4 linked regions of the Homo sapiens genome follow. The protein of the gene in region 3 purifies or fractionates together with the protein of the main gene of each other region. This does not show direct contact. Each region holds a gene or a part of one and is shown on either strand. Other genes may lie near its edges.

Region 1 (3,783 bases), on a different chromosome or scaffold from region 3:
CAGGCCTAAAGGTGGACCTAGAGGGAAGGGAAGGTTTTGAACAAGCAATGAGGAAAGTGGAGGACAAGTTGGGCAGCGAGTGTGACACAGCCAGGACTTGGGTAGAGCAGCCTTGACAATTGGATCCATGGGGCAGCAAGGCAAGAAGGGAGCTAGTCACTCACCTATCCTTAATGGGCAGTGGTAGTCTGCTAGGCAACAAATGATCAGAGAACTACCCAGTCCAGGGAACCAATGGAATGTCACTGAGTTCCTGATTCTTCCCAGCAGCAACAACAGCTGTGGTGTTCATCCTTTGGCCAACACCCAATCCAATCCTGTCTCTTACCCTGTCTCACAGGCCCTGGGGGTTGGTGGAAACAGGGCAGGGGTTGGGGTCTGGATTCTGAGCTGTAGGAATAGGAAATGAGGGGAGATGCTCAGGTTACCTGGTTCCGTACAGACTCATTTTTCTGAGAAACAGGATCTGTGTGCATCCAAAGCTCTAATGAAGTTCTTAAGGCCACCTGGGGGGAGGATGAAGAAACAACACTTAGAATCAGTCTCCTGTTCTGGGCCATGCCTAGGGGATAGAAGTCAAGGGAAGAGGCGGTGGTTCCTGCAGTTAAGACCGCAGAACAACAAAGGAGGAAGATTTAATTAAAAAGGAAGGGGCTGGGGGACATGCCACATACCTGTCCCAGCTCCACAAATGAGTCAACATTCTCTAACTGCACGGGAAACTTGCCCTTCTCCATATCGTAGACCATCCTCGAGCTGCCAATGTAGTCAAAAGTTTCCTGAGAGATGGAGGTAGGTGGGAGGGGGAACAGAGATTCCAAAGGGTTAGGAGAGCCTCGAAGGCGGCCAGATCATCAAAGCTGTAGGTAAGACGACTATCTCAGGTCACCTCAACTGCTAGTCAGCTTACAGTCATGTGACTTTCGGCTTCTCTTGGCCCCACCTCCCAGCTGTGACTATCCCTCATATGTATTACAAGACTTCTGAAGCCCAGAAATGGGGAAAGTAGCCTTAGTAAAGGTCTAAGATGAACATCAGCTATTATGTGTCTGATTCTTAACGGTCCCCCACCTCCAGTGACTCAGCCACAGATGCTGTTCCCTTATTCTGCTGTGGTCCTAGTGATGAGAGTCAGGAGCCTAACGGCTCCTGGATGGAGATAGCAGTAAAGGAGTCCAGAGAATAAAAGTAAAAGGCCGCCTCCAATATATCTTATCAGTGGGGGAAAGAGGGGGCTGGTTACATACCAATTCAGGGTGTAAAAGCTTCCTAAAAAGAAGGAATCTAAGCTTCCTAAAATGGAGGAATCTAAAGGGGAGACACATGTAGACACATCCAGAAGCTCTGTGCTGGTTAACAACTTAGGTCAAGTGCTGAGGTCTTCTCCAACCAGTAGCCACTCTCATCTTTACTATCCTCTTTCTTCCCTGCCATTGCACCCCAGCCAAAGAGCCCTTACCCCTTGAAAGAAGACAAACATGACATTGCGGGGCAGGGTGGTCACATCAGGTGCCTTTTGCAAAGCTTCAGCAGCAGCCAGCTGGGTGACAAAGGAAGCCACTGCGCTTTCAGCCCCTGGGGCCACATTCCAGAAAAAGGAACGACTATCCAGCTAGGTACAACAGAAGAAAAGTCAGGGGATATATACTTTAAAACTGGCCCCAAACCTCCTTTCTTGCTCCAGTCAAGAGAATATACCTGTCCTGTGGCAATGGAGACAACCCAGGAGTCCCACAGCCCAGATTCCTCCCCATTTGAGGCTTCCCAATTTAGCAACTTTGAAATCTGATATGCTAGAGCGGGGCCTACCAGCTCTTTTTGTGCCAGCCCTGCCCATCCTGATCAGAAGCCAACACTCACCCGGGTGGCAGCAACCACAACCCTGTCGTCAGGCTTTAATGTCCCAGTTGTATTTATAGGCTTTAGCATGCTCCACACATTGTAATCAGACAGGGGGTCACAGACGATTTCTAAGCAGGACACAAACAATGAGAGATCAACAAGGCTAAAGGAGAAGGTAGCTATAAAGGCAACATTGGAAATCTCTGACCAGTGCCCCACGGACTCTAAGTCGTTTTCTCTACTTCCAACAGTCCGAGGTTGGCTTCTCTGCCACTATCCACTTTAGGAACAAGCTGCCTAAATTTTTCAGAATTGTTTCTAGTTCTCCCATGCAGAGCTCCTTCATGGTGTCTACTCCTTCCCTATTACAGTCTCTCTAACATTCCCTGGCCTGGTTCCACTCTCCCTCTGCCCCTTATTCCATTACCCTCATGGTTCGGATCTGCCCTACCTGGGTTGATGCTGAAGGTGCTTTGGATGGAGCTGCGCCGCATGCAGGTGGCAGTGCTGATGACAGCATGCATGTGTGAAAAGAGCTGCATGGCACATAGTGGGAAGGTTGGTGCTGAGCCATTCTGACTCAGGTTGTGATCTTGATAGCACTGAAAGGGGAGATGGACCCCACTGAGACAGCTAGTTTGTGGAGGCCCTCCCTTACATCCCAGAAGGAGGAGGGCCCAGTTCCATCCTTTTGGGATGGAGCCACACCCTTTTCGGAGACATTTATCCCTGAGCTATAGTTATCCTAGAACCACCATAGGATCTATAAGGTCAAAGAAAAAAACTCATCAAGAGTTACAAAGGGTTGCAGACTCAGTGGTTTAGCTGGAGATGAAACTATCCCATTCCAGATGGCCTGGCCCAATTTGAAGCTTCAGCCACTGAAAAGATTCAGTGTGGTCTGATACAAAGAGCACCAAACTAGAGATAGGAAATCAGATATGACACAGCTTGGAGATCAACTCACCATACAACTTTGGACAAATCTCTTAACTACTCTATGAGTCAAAATGGAAATACTAGACCAGAATTAAGGCATATTAGAGCTAAAAAGAAGCTCAGAAATTACCAAATTGAATTTCTCAATCTCTAATCCAATGCTTTTTTTTTTAACGATACTAGTGGTTCTTAACCTGGGCTGTGTACCTTGTTTCATATTACTCTTTCAGATATTCTTTATATTTTCTTCTAGTCTAAAAGGCTTTAATGCTGTAATATCAGGTAGGAGCAAAATGTGGGGAAAGAATGTGAGAAGAACTAACGTCTTGGTTCTTTTTGGAGCAACCGTCTTTCAGCAGGTGTACCAGAAGAATGAGCCACCCTCCAAATAGGAGAGCCTATAAAATAATCCTTTTTTTTTTTTTTTTTTTGTGACACAGGGCCTTGCTCTGTCACCCAGGCTGGAGTGCAATGGTGCCATCTCAGCTCACTGAAACCTCTGCCTCCCGGCCTCAAGTGATCCTCCTGTCTCAGCCTCCCGGGTGGCTGGGACTACGTGCACACACCACCACACCTGGCTAGAAAAATAATCTTCTTTCTAACTGGAATTGCTAGGAGCTGGCAGTGTCATTACCTGCTTGATGACTTTGGTTTCATTTTCATCTTCAAGAAGAAAGATGGGGAAACTAAAGTCTTCATAAGCCAAACCATTGCCCAGCGAATTCCACTGTATTTCTCTGCAGTGAGCAAACTCTGGCCCATAGGAATTGGAGTAAACACCTGAAGGGAAGGATGGGGAATAGGGGGACTGGTTACTGGGACACCAAGTACTTAGGAACCAGGTGACGGCAGAAGAATCTTTCAGTTGGGACTAAGAGTTCAAAAGGAGGTGGTGACTCAAAGAAGTAGGCATGAAGTCTATTACCATCCACACTAAAATAGAAAGACAATGGTATCAGGGAGTCTTAGGCTGTAAGATTAGGGATGTGAACACGTGACAAA
Region 2 (2,852 bases), on a different chromosome or scaffold from region 3:
CGTGAGGAAGAACCAGGCTTGGGGGACTCAGGCATTCAGTCAACACCAGGCTCGGGCCATGCCCCTCGTACTAGTTCCTCCTCAGATGATTCAAAGAGATCACCTTTGGGCAAGACTCCACTGGGACGCCCAGCTGTCCCCCGTTTTGGCAAGCCAGATGGGCTAAGGGGCCGGGGAGTAGGGTCCCCTGAACCAGGCCCAACAGCCCCATACCTGGGCCGATCGATGTCTTACAGCAGCCAAAAAGCCCAACCTGGTGTCTCTGAGACAGAAGAAGTGGCCTTGCAGCCATTACTGACACCCAAGTAAGTATTAGTACTATCCTGACCCTTAGCCAATTTCAAATTAGCATACTGCTCTGCAAAAGCTATCAGGGCTTCTGTTGTACATCCTAATGTAGGTGGACCCAGGGGTATCCTGGTAGCTCTTTATTTTCACTTTGACTCTACCTGCCTTCATGGGCAATTCCTGTTAAGAGACTGAAGATTAATACTTTTTCCATAATGCTATCTTCCTAAAAGTATTTGCTTGGGAGTAAGTACATGTGATAGCTGTTACTAGAGAGTAGTAGTACATAGGAGAGATTGGGAATCAGGCTTATTTTAAGCAGGGCAATAAAGGGGAATGTTTGGGTAAGAAAGTATGGATATAGAAAAGAACATCATTTTTTTCTCTGAACCTTTGAAACTGTCTCCCTTTCCAATGTTTTCTGTCCCATTTCCTGACACCTACGTCTTGTCTCTTCTTTCCAGAGATGAAGTACAGCTGAAGACCACCTACAGCAAATCCAACGGGCAGCCCAAGAGCTTAGGCTCAGCCTCCCCTGGCCCAGGCCAGCCACCTCTCAGTAGCCCCACGAGGGGAGGAGTCAAGAAGGTGTCAGGGGTTGGTGGTACCACCTATGAGATTTCGGTGTGAGCCTTCGGCACCTCCCCTCCCCAACGCCTCTGCGCCTACACCAAAGGGCCCCAGGTGGCCACCTTCCTTCCCTCAAGGGGCTCCCCTCCCGTGCATGGACATTTTTTAAACCACCGATTCCAAGAGGATGAGGAGTGTTTTCTAAAATGCAGTAGGCTTGGGGAGTCGGAGAGTTGGGGCCCTGAGACTGGGGTAGCAACCCCCCCTTTTATCTTTTAAGACCTTCCCTTCCTTGATCCCTGGACCAGACTCAGTGGACATTTGTGCAATTGCTCGCCCTGGAGGGAACCAGATCATTTTTAAACCAGAAATAATTTTTTTTATTATTGTTACGGATTCTATTTTTTTCCTCTTCTGCGTTACCAGGTGTGTGTGTACATATAATATATATATATATATATTATAAATATCAAAGAAATTATATATCTATCCTGGGATGGGAAAATGAGGGAGGGATACATATACGGAGGGGGATCTTACTCTTCCCATTCCTCAGACCAGCAGGAAAAGAGGGGAGACGTCAGTCTTTTTCCTGTGGTTCCCTCTCATTTGTCCCAGTTACTAACTACGGAAATAGCATCCTCTGCTGGTGCTAAGTGTGATTAGGAAGAAGCCTGGGGAGAGGTGAGTCTGGAATTTTGGTCACAAGAGGGAAGGACTTGGAGAGGAGAATTAGTTTTCTAGGCTCATTGGCATTTAGTTTCCCTAGGAAAGGGGTCAAAACTTCAAGACACTGGTGGTGGTGGGAGATCAGGAAAATAACTTGGCCTAGCTCAAACAATATTGGATAATCCCCTCCTTGGGGGAGAGGGATTAGAGTGTGCTCCTACTGGCCCCTTGGAGCCTCCCCTAGCTTACACAGTTAACTTGATTTTAAAATCCAAGGCCAGGAGAGAAGAATCCAAAAAGCAATATTTTTCATCACATGCCAAAAACGGGGGATAGAGAGAAGGAGTGGCAGGCCTAGGCCCCTCCGATTGTCCCTTGGGGGTTACCCCTCAGCCCACCTCACTATGGTGCTGGGTAGAGGGGATACCTGGGTTCTAACCTCTAAATAGGGGAGATCCCAGCCTCCACAAAGAGGCCCTTTTATTTTTTATTCTGATTAGCCATTTTAAACCAACGAGGAATAAAAAGAAATCCTGATCTAACCAGCGCCCCCTGACTTGTGTTATTTTGTCTGGTTGAGACAGGGTGAACGATCTCTGGTGGGAAGTTATCAGTGACAACCTCATAAACTTCTCTGGTCCCAGCCCATCTTTAGGCAAGACTATAATGAAATTAGCCACTTAACAACTAAAAAAATAAAAAAGAGACCCAGTGCGGTGGCTTATACCTGTAATCCCAGCACTGAGGGAGGCTGAGGCAAGAGGATCACTTGAGCCCAGGAGTTCCAGACCAACCTGGGCAACATAGAGACTCCATTTCTAAAAACAACAGGTCCTGTTTTTATTTGGGTGATTTAATTCAAAAATTCCTGAAAAAAGGTCTCTTGAAATCACCAAAACTGCTTGTTATTTGAAAGCTTAGAGAACTCTTAAAAGTTGTTTCTTTCAAGAGACAGGGCCTCATTCTGGTTGCCCAGGCTGGAGGGCAGTGGCACAATCAGATCACTATATCCTCAAATTCCTGGGCTCAAGGGATCTTCCCACCTCAGCCTTCTGTGAAGCTAGGACTTACAGTTGCATGCCACCATGCTTAGCTAATTTTTTTTTTTTTGGTAGAGATAGACTCTCAACCAATTTTGCCCAGACTGATCTCGAACTTCTGGCCTTGAGCAATCCTGCCTTGGCCTCCCAAAGCATTGGGATTACAGGCATGAGCCACCATGCCCAGCTACAGTTGTTTTTTAATACAGGATTTAGTCTCTGGAAAGTAAAGCTAATTTTGGAAACAGCCAAAGGTGACATAGTAACAGGTATGAAAGCCTGTTG
Region 3 (4,066 bases):
AGAGATTAAATTACTAAGTCAGGGAGATGGAATGAGGAACAGTATCAGGGGAATGGCAATGAGATAGACAGGTAGAAGTAGGAGTCTTTATGGGGACAAAAATCCTTGGCAATGCCCTGTGTGGGGATAATAGGGAAGGAGTCAGAGGGTGCCAACGTTTTCAGTCTGAGTGGCTAGAAAGATGCAATTTCCAGAAGACAGATTGTAGACATGTTAAGCTTAGGTCCTGGGGAAAGTATCTGAGTAGGGCGGAGAGATGCTACATAACAGAGAGCAGGGCAGTGCGGCTCAATGACGAGCATGGATTGCCTGGCCACTGGGGACATTCTCAACATCCACATGCACACTGTCCTAAGGGCAGCACCCTCTTGGCCACTGCCATTGTCTCCCACCCCTACTTGATGTCTCCTAGTAATATATGTACTGTGTCCCCCCCTCTGCCGTCTGCCCATCGTGCTAGGCCAGATAAAAAGGGGTGAGAAGCACTGCAGGTTCCTGTAAGTGAAAGGAACCCCAGAATACTGAGAAAGCAAAGGAAGGCGATAACTGAAACAAGAAATGATATGATTAATGGTTTTAAAAGAAGATGATGACTGAGCTAGGACCCTTGCCCAGTTTCTCAATTAGCACTTTTGGGGTCTAAGGAGACTGGATCATTAAATTGAGGCAGTGGGTATCAAACATTGTTTAATGTTTTTGTTTGCATTGTAGGGGGCTTGAAAGAGTGGTGGGATGGAGGTGTTTTAGACCGAGGGAAATCTGAACGGTCTCATCTCCTCTCATCTCCATCCAAAACATTCCCCAGTCAGCCAGATGGAAACTCCTTGACTGATGAAAATAATCCACAGTCAGGTGTGATTTCGAGGTGAGACCTGGAACAGTGCTTGGCACAGAGTAGGTGCTCAATATTTGTTGAGTGGACGAATGTATCAAGGCGTAATCAACCCAAGAGATATTTGCCTTTCAAAAAGAGGGTCCAGACAAGTAAAATAAATCCCTACTTAGAACCTCTTACTTTGCCTATCACTGTTTCTCAATGTGGGTGCTATAAGCATTTTGGATAGAAAAATTCTTCACACGTGCCCAATTCTTGAAGGTTCTGCAGAATGTAGAGTCTTAGCATCCCTGGACCTTGGGAACTAAATACCAGGGGCATCCTCAGGCACTGTGACAACCAAAATGCCTTCCCACCCCTTTGGCTCCCAAACCAATCTCCCTGTGGCAGTCAGGCTGCTTCTCCCTCCCAGGTACCCCATGGTCTCTGGGCTTTTCTGCCTGGCTTTGATCTCAGCTTACCAAGTCCTCAATGCCTGTTGCCTCTCTTTTTAACTGGGCGCAATTATACTTAATCACTCAAATCCTATCTCTTCTTTCTTGACTCTTTCCTGACCATCTCACCCAAAGCCCATCTTTTCATTTACTTAGTGATGTGAATACCTCCCTGAAAACACTTCCTTGGCAAGTAGCTTTTCTGGGCTTCTGTTGGCTTGAAGGCCTATCTTCCTATACATTCTTCTGCCTCACTTTCTAAGTTCAAGCAACAATGAATGTTTAGGTTCCTCTGCAGAACCATGAACTATCATTTTCAGGCCTTTTAGATGCTCTTCTCTCTACCTAGAATCTATTTCTCTTCATATCATCTCACTAATTTATAATTATTCTCAGATACCAGCTGGGATACCCAGTGCTGAGATAGTTGCTCCTTCTATAGGCTCCATGGTACTACGTTTCTCTATTATTACTCTTCTTATCGTTACCCATTTGGAAGTTAGCCATTTACTTGTTATACCATTCATTAGACTGTAAGCACCATGAGGGCAGAACATGTCTGGCTTTTTTATAGTTCTCCAGTGTTTAGCACATTGCCTAGCATCAAGCAGGGATTCACTAAATAGGGGTCATGTGTCTGGTTTCTTTTCTTATGGACATTTCTCATCTCACTATCGACCACGGTAGGAATTCTGTTGTTCCAGCTTCTTCACTCTAATCACCAAGCTTTGCATATGACAAAAACTTAATAAAAAACAAAACTGAGAAGATAGTTTCTCATCATATGTAGACTATATGTTTATAAATTGTTGTCAAAGCTATTGAAATCTGTGTCAGAGTGAAAGACAAGGGAAAAAAGCTGTGATTAAAAATTGCTCAAATAGATCTAAAAGTCCTTTATGCTTTCAGTTAAAGTTCCTTCCTTCCTTTCTTCCTTCCTCCCTCCCTCCCTTCCTTTCTTCCCTCCTTCCTTCCTTCTTTTTTTTGACAGAGTCTCCCTCTGTCACCCAGGCTGGAGTGCAGTGGCACAATCTCGGCTCACTGCAACCTCCGCCTTCCAGGTTCAAGCGATTCTCCTGCCTCAGCCTCCTGAGTAGCTGGGACTACAGGCATGTGCCACCACACCCAGCTAATTTTTTGTATTTTTAGTCGAGATGGGGTTTCACCATGCTGGCCAGGCTGGTCTCAAACTCCTGACCTCAGGTGATCCGCCCACCTTGGCCTCCCAAAGTGCTGGGATTACAGGCGTGAGCCACTGTGCCCAGCCTAAAGTTTCTAATTTTAAATATAATTTGGCAGTTTTCAAAAACACTTATCCCTATTCAATGTGTAATTTTTCCCATGTAAATTTTTCTATGTCATAAATATAGATTTTTTTGCAAAATATAGACCAGTAATTCTCACGCTTACACTTGTCTGACAATTAGATCAATTGGGAAGTTTCTATAAATACATATTTATATTGTAGTGAGCCCGCCCCAGGGCTCACTACACTCACACACCACAGAATATTAGCCTTGGAAACTTTAATTTAGCTTATCGGGGATTTCTAATAATCAGAGAGTACGTAGGCCAATGAATGCTCATATCTCTTTGTAAAGTACTTGCCTTAAGTTATAATTAAAGAAAATTTCTGTTAAGAGCTGCCATTTTCCCATTACCTACTAACTTTTAGAAACAAAAACCAGTAAGAAATCCATGTTTCTAAAATCCTTGGATATGATAATTGATTATTCTTATGGCTTCAATATTCACCATCTAATTTATACTTTAATGTATTCTTTAATATATATTATTCAGTTGTATATTAGAACACTAAGCATAACTCTGATATTATTGATAATTTATAGATACTTGAATCCACTTGTTATGGATCAAATTATGACCCCTAAAAGATAATATATTGAAGTGCTAACCACCAGTACCTCAGAATGTGAGCTTATTTGGAAATAGGGTCTCTGCAGATTTAACCAAGCTGAGGTCATTATTTTGGGGCATAATCCAGTACAACCGATGTTCTTATAAAATGGGGAAATTTGGACAAGGACACAGACATGCACAGAGGGAAGATGATATAAAGAGACAAAAGAGAGAATGCCATGCGCAGATGGAGGATTGGAGTAATGAATGCACCTACAAGAGAAGGAATGACAAAGATTGCCAACAAACCAGTATGCACTTGGAAGAGGAAAGGAGGGAAACTGGTTTCAGAGGGAGCATGGCCCTGCCCATATCTTGATTTTGGATTTCTAGCCTCTGGAACTGTGAGATCATACATTTTTGTTGTTTTAAGCCACTCAGTTTTTAGCACTTCGTTACAGCAGTCCTAGCAAACTAATACCCTACTAAATATATCTGCTCACAGTGTGATCTGCTATCATTGAATCCTTAAAATGTAGTTTGATTTTAAAGCACAAGCTTCATTAGTCGAACCCAAAATTGAAGCAACCATCAGGAAATCTCTCACCCACGAGCCCTCCTTGGCAATCTGGCGAGGCCTATGAACCCCTTCTCAGATTAATGATTTCAAATGTATAAAATAAAATACAGGGGATTATCAATGAACCCAATTATATTGAAATAGTTATCAGCATTTTTAAAATACCAATTTGTGATGCAGCAGTATCATGTATTTTATTAACATATTAAGTAAAAGATCTAGTAGAAAGTCTATTAGTGATGTTCAGAATAAATGGTATTTTGAGATCACCATAAGATGTAAAGGTATTTATGAATTCTATTGTGATAGTCACAGCTACTGCTCACACTACTGTGCAGTGTCTTCCCCACACTCATA
Region 4 (3,783 bases), on a different chromosome or scaffold from region 3:
CTGCAACTTTATAATAATGAAAATTAGAAACAACCTAAATAGTTAACAACATGGGAATGGTTAAATAAACTGAGTTGCATCCATTAAATGGAATATAATATAGCCATTAAAATTATGTTTTTGTAAAATTTTTAATGCCATAAGAAAATGTGGCAATTTTGCAATGAAAAAGATCTACTTATAAAACTGTTTACAGTATGACTCCAATTATGTAAAAAAAGTATACAATACACATATAGGCATACATGGGGGTTGCTTTTTAAAGGTGGTTACTTCTGGGTTGTGATATTATCAGTAATCATTTTTGCTTTTTTATACATTTCTGCATTTTTCAAGTTTTCTATGATGAGTATATTATTTTACAAAGACTACGAAAATTTTCCTCTGATATACTGGTAATTAGAATGTACTTGGGTATTTTAAATATATGGGAACAATATTATAGTGCTTCATCTTCTATGACTTTTTTGGAATACATATCACTTTGGTAATAAACTTACATTCCCTGTTTTATACTTGTTACAACATTTTAATTAAACAGTTAATATTGTGATTAGAGCATTGTTTGCTTCATGACCTAAACAAATACTGGCTTTGAAGTCTAGGTTCTATTTCCTAGAAGATTTAACATTAGTATCCTTTTAATCTTTTTAAGTAAGGCATACTGCATACATACATTACATGCATGCTTTCTAAACAAAAGATAATTCCAACTTACAGTTTTCCTATGTAAGGGAAAAAATGGAATTATGGTAGTTTAAAAGCAGTCCATAGTCTCATCCATCACAAACATGCTGATAGGCATAAACGTGTTTATTAAGTGAAACGTATCCTTTAAAAATAAAAAAGGGAAGCCTGTATATAAATGAAGTTGTGGATTCAACTAGCCAGAATTTATTCTGACTTGCACCAAACCACACAAAATCTTTTAAAAGTCTAGTTAGTGTAGTCTAAATGGACACTCCAGAGTCTGTTCTTGAATTCCATTGCAAGAGCTCCAACTTCCTACTTTCAGAAGGGATGGGGATCAAGATGAGGGTTGTCACATAAGCTAATTTTCAATATATATCAAGTCTTGTGGGGTCCAGGAACAAATACTGTCATTGGTTAGTGTTTAAGTACATGAGTTGACTTTTCTCCTCTCTCACACCCCACCTTGCCCTGGCAATTGGGTAGGGGGAGGCTGTTTATCCTCCAAGAGAGGACGGCTGGTTCCTCATCTCAGTTTCCGTTCTAAACCACAGAGTGGTCATTGCTGTGAACTCCAGCCAAGATGGTGTGGTTGAGGGAGGAAGCCGAGCGGTCTGAGCCTTCTGTGGGGCCGGTGGGGTTCTCACTGCGCTGGCAGCAGAGGATCTGCCTAAAGGTGGCGCTCATTTCTTTGTCGCGGTAGGAGTAAATGATGGGGTTCATGGCAGAGTTGAATTCAGCAAGGAGAAGGAAGAATTTCTCATAGGCCAGCACGTCGCACTGTGGACAGCACACGTCTAGAAGTAACAAAACCAATCCAGGAGTCCAGCAGATGATAAAGGCCCCTACAAGGACAAGGATAGGGATCAGAAGGATTTTTAAAAAGAGAATGAAAAAATATTATAAAACATGCGACCATAAAGTGAAATGATTTCAGTTCAATATAAAAATACTGAAGTTGGAAGCCACCATTGTCGCAAATGAAATACTCATTTCCTGAGAAAATCAGAAAAAATTTAACGATAGTCAACTTAAAATTTTATTTTGGACGTTACTAAAATCAAGCAATTATGAGACATTGATGATTATTATTTTGAGCAAAACACAAAGAGTTTGATAAGCAATTGAGATATGAAAAACTGCATTCAGGAAACACTTCACCTCACATAACAACATGGTTTTTAATAGCAGTGTTATTTTCAGGCAAAAGATAAGCACGAATGATAAGTGTCCTTTAATGTTTAATTAAGGCATAGTTTCTGGATTCAGGTTGTCTGGGCCCAAATCTTTGTTTGACATGTAATAAACTGGGTGAACTTAGGCAAACTACTTTCTTTCCTTAATTTTCCCATCTGAAAATGCAGATGATTATATTTACACCTCATAAGGTTTGTTGTATGGATTAAACAAGTGTTAAGGAAATAATCACTCAATCTGTATCTACAATAACAATAATAATTATTACCTGCTGAGTAGCATGGGCCTGTTTGGAAATTGTGATTTTCAATGACAAGATCTATGTTTTATTTTTATTCAACAACTACCCACATAGTGCTGTCCTATATGCTTTACCAGTAATAATTTATTGAATTTTCACAGTAGCCATATGACATAGAAACTAATATCCCCATTGTACAGATGAAGGAACTGAGACCCAGAAAGTTTATATAACTGGCTCAAGGCCACAGTACTGGAAAGCAGAAAAATCCCAGAGTTTCTGTTCTTAGAGGCTGCCTCCAGAGTTCAAGCTCTAGAAAATATTACATTTCTATATCTTGAAAATGATAACATTAAATATTTTAAACCAAATTTACTATTTCAGATGTTCTACTAATTTAGATCAACTTTGTTCTCTTTCTTCCCCCAATTATTCTGAATCATTACAATTTTACTATAACTGTAAGAGGAATGAAAATATAGATGAGATGCTTAATTCTATTTCATTTAGTTTCTGAAATCACTCATCATTTGGATCCCAGGAAAATGGAGGTTGTAAAATAGCATTAAATCCTACCACTGTGTTACTCCAGACTCTGCTGGGGATCTTCTACTGAAAGAACATGAGCCAACAGCGGTGGGCACCACTGTGTCCCATTACACCTCACCTAATGGGCCCCATATGTGTAATCAGGCAGGCTACATATGTGTAATCAGGCAGAGCGGAAGTAGGAGCAACCCCAGAAGGGCATTTGCATCTTCAGATTTAAATGGCGCTGGCTTTGGTGGATGCAGGCTTGGACTGGGGTCATGGATTTGGTCCAGCCTCAAGGAATTAGTTTCACAAAATGTAAACAAATGAGATTTAGTCTCCAAACAGCCCACTTTTGAATCTGAGCTTTCTTTTGTGAAACTTTTCAGCAGGGAAATGAAAATAAAGGAGAAAAGTACCCCCATAAAGCTCTTTGTTCTACAACACAAATGTGTATTGGTTTTAAACTGCTGTTCACTTTGAAGATTGGCCAAGGTACTTCATTTTCTAATAAATACAACACCTTAGACTTTCCTTGGAGAGAAAAAAATATTTCAAATATCAGGAGATAATAGCCAAGGAGCAATTTGAACTTCAATAAAAATGTTAATAAAGCATTCATTCCAAGTCCTTGAATTTCCTTGCTTGAAAATCACTCAGAAAGCTAAACATAAAGGAAAATCAAAGGAATGCCTCTTGGGTTTCAGAAATAATGCATTATTCATTGAGAAGCCAGGAAGGGAATTATTCTCAGGATGGAAAATGCTTGGATGGAAAATGCATGGTCCCATTATGCCATTTACTTGGAAACTAAAAACACACAGTCCCTTCATGAATGGAACAGCATTCTTTCAAGTTTCCTTTCCCCTTCCTTTTATCAAAGCTCTAATTGAGTTCAAATTCAGAACTTGATTAGACACAAGGAACATGCATCTCAATAGCTAGATTTTAAATAAAATGATCTTTTTCTCCTTCTGGGCAACAGAAGGGAATATCTTTATTCTCTCATACTTAAGCTGCTTGACTTTGCTCAAAAGTGAGAGAATTCAAACACTGTCATTTGTTGTTTATAATTTCTTCCCATGTTAAAATTTAAAAGGTGTAAGATCTTTCCAGAAAGAGCC

The links. Proteins that work in one complex are often made in the same cells at the same time.
Region 1: the proteins of DSG2 (region 3) and NCSTN purify together in Homo sapiens (co-immunoprecipitation; one study listed by IntAct). This does not show direct contact.
Region 2: the proteins of DSG2 (region 3) and ZDHHC5 purify together in Homo sapiens (co-immunoprecipitation; one large-scale study listed by IntAct). This does not show direct contact.
Region 4: the proteins of DSG2 (region 3) and LPAR1 purify together in Homo sapiens (co-immunoprecipitation; one large-scale study listed by IntAct). This does not show direct contact.

What each region holds. Positions count from the first base shown.
Region 1 is NC_000001.11:160,349,883-160,353,665, reverse strand, and holds part of NCSTN (nicastrin isoform 1 precursor), read right to left. Parts: intron 3,562-3,783; coding exon 3,416-3,561; intron 2,445-3,415; coding exon 2,294-2,444; intron 1,971-2,293; coding exon 1,861-1,970; intron 1,613-1,860; coding exon 1,460-1,612; intron 780-1,459; coding exon 675-779; intron 507-674; coding exon 429-506; intron 344-428; coding exon of another isoform or gene 335-343; exon of another isoform or gene 1-334. UniProt on the Homo sapiens protein: Essential subunit of the gamma-secretase complex, an endoprotease complex that catalyzes the intramembrane cleavage of integral membrane proteins such as Notch receptors and APP (amyloid-beta precursor protein).
Region 2 is NC_000011.10:57,699,114-57,701,965, forward strand, and holds the end of ZDHHC5 (palmitoyltransferase ZDHHC5), read left to right. Parts: coding exon 1-305; intron 306-752; coding exon 753-918; 3' UTR 919-2,069; downstream 2,070-2,852. UniProt on the Homo sapiens protein: Palmitoyltransferase that catalyzes the addition of palmitate onto various protein substrates such as CTNND2, CD36, GSDMD, NLRP3, NOD1, NOD2, STAT3 and S1PR1 thus plays a role in various biological processes including cell adhesion, inflammation, fatty acid uptake, bacterial sensing or cardiac functions.
Region 3 is NC_000018.10:31,500,938-31,505,003, reverse strand, and holds part of DSG2 (desmoglein-2 preproprotein), read right to left. Parts: intron 1-4,066.
Region 4 is NC_000009.12:110,874,188-110,877,970, forward strand, and holds part of LPAR1 (lysophosphatidic acid receptor 1), read right to left. Parts: intron 1,536-3,783; coding exon 1,234-1,535; 3' UTR 1-1,233.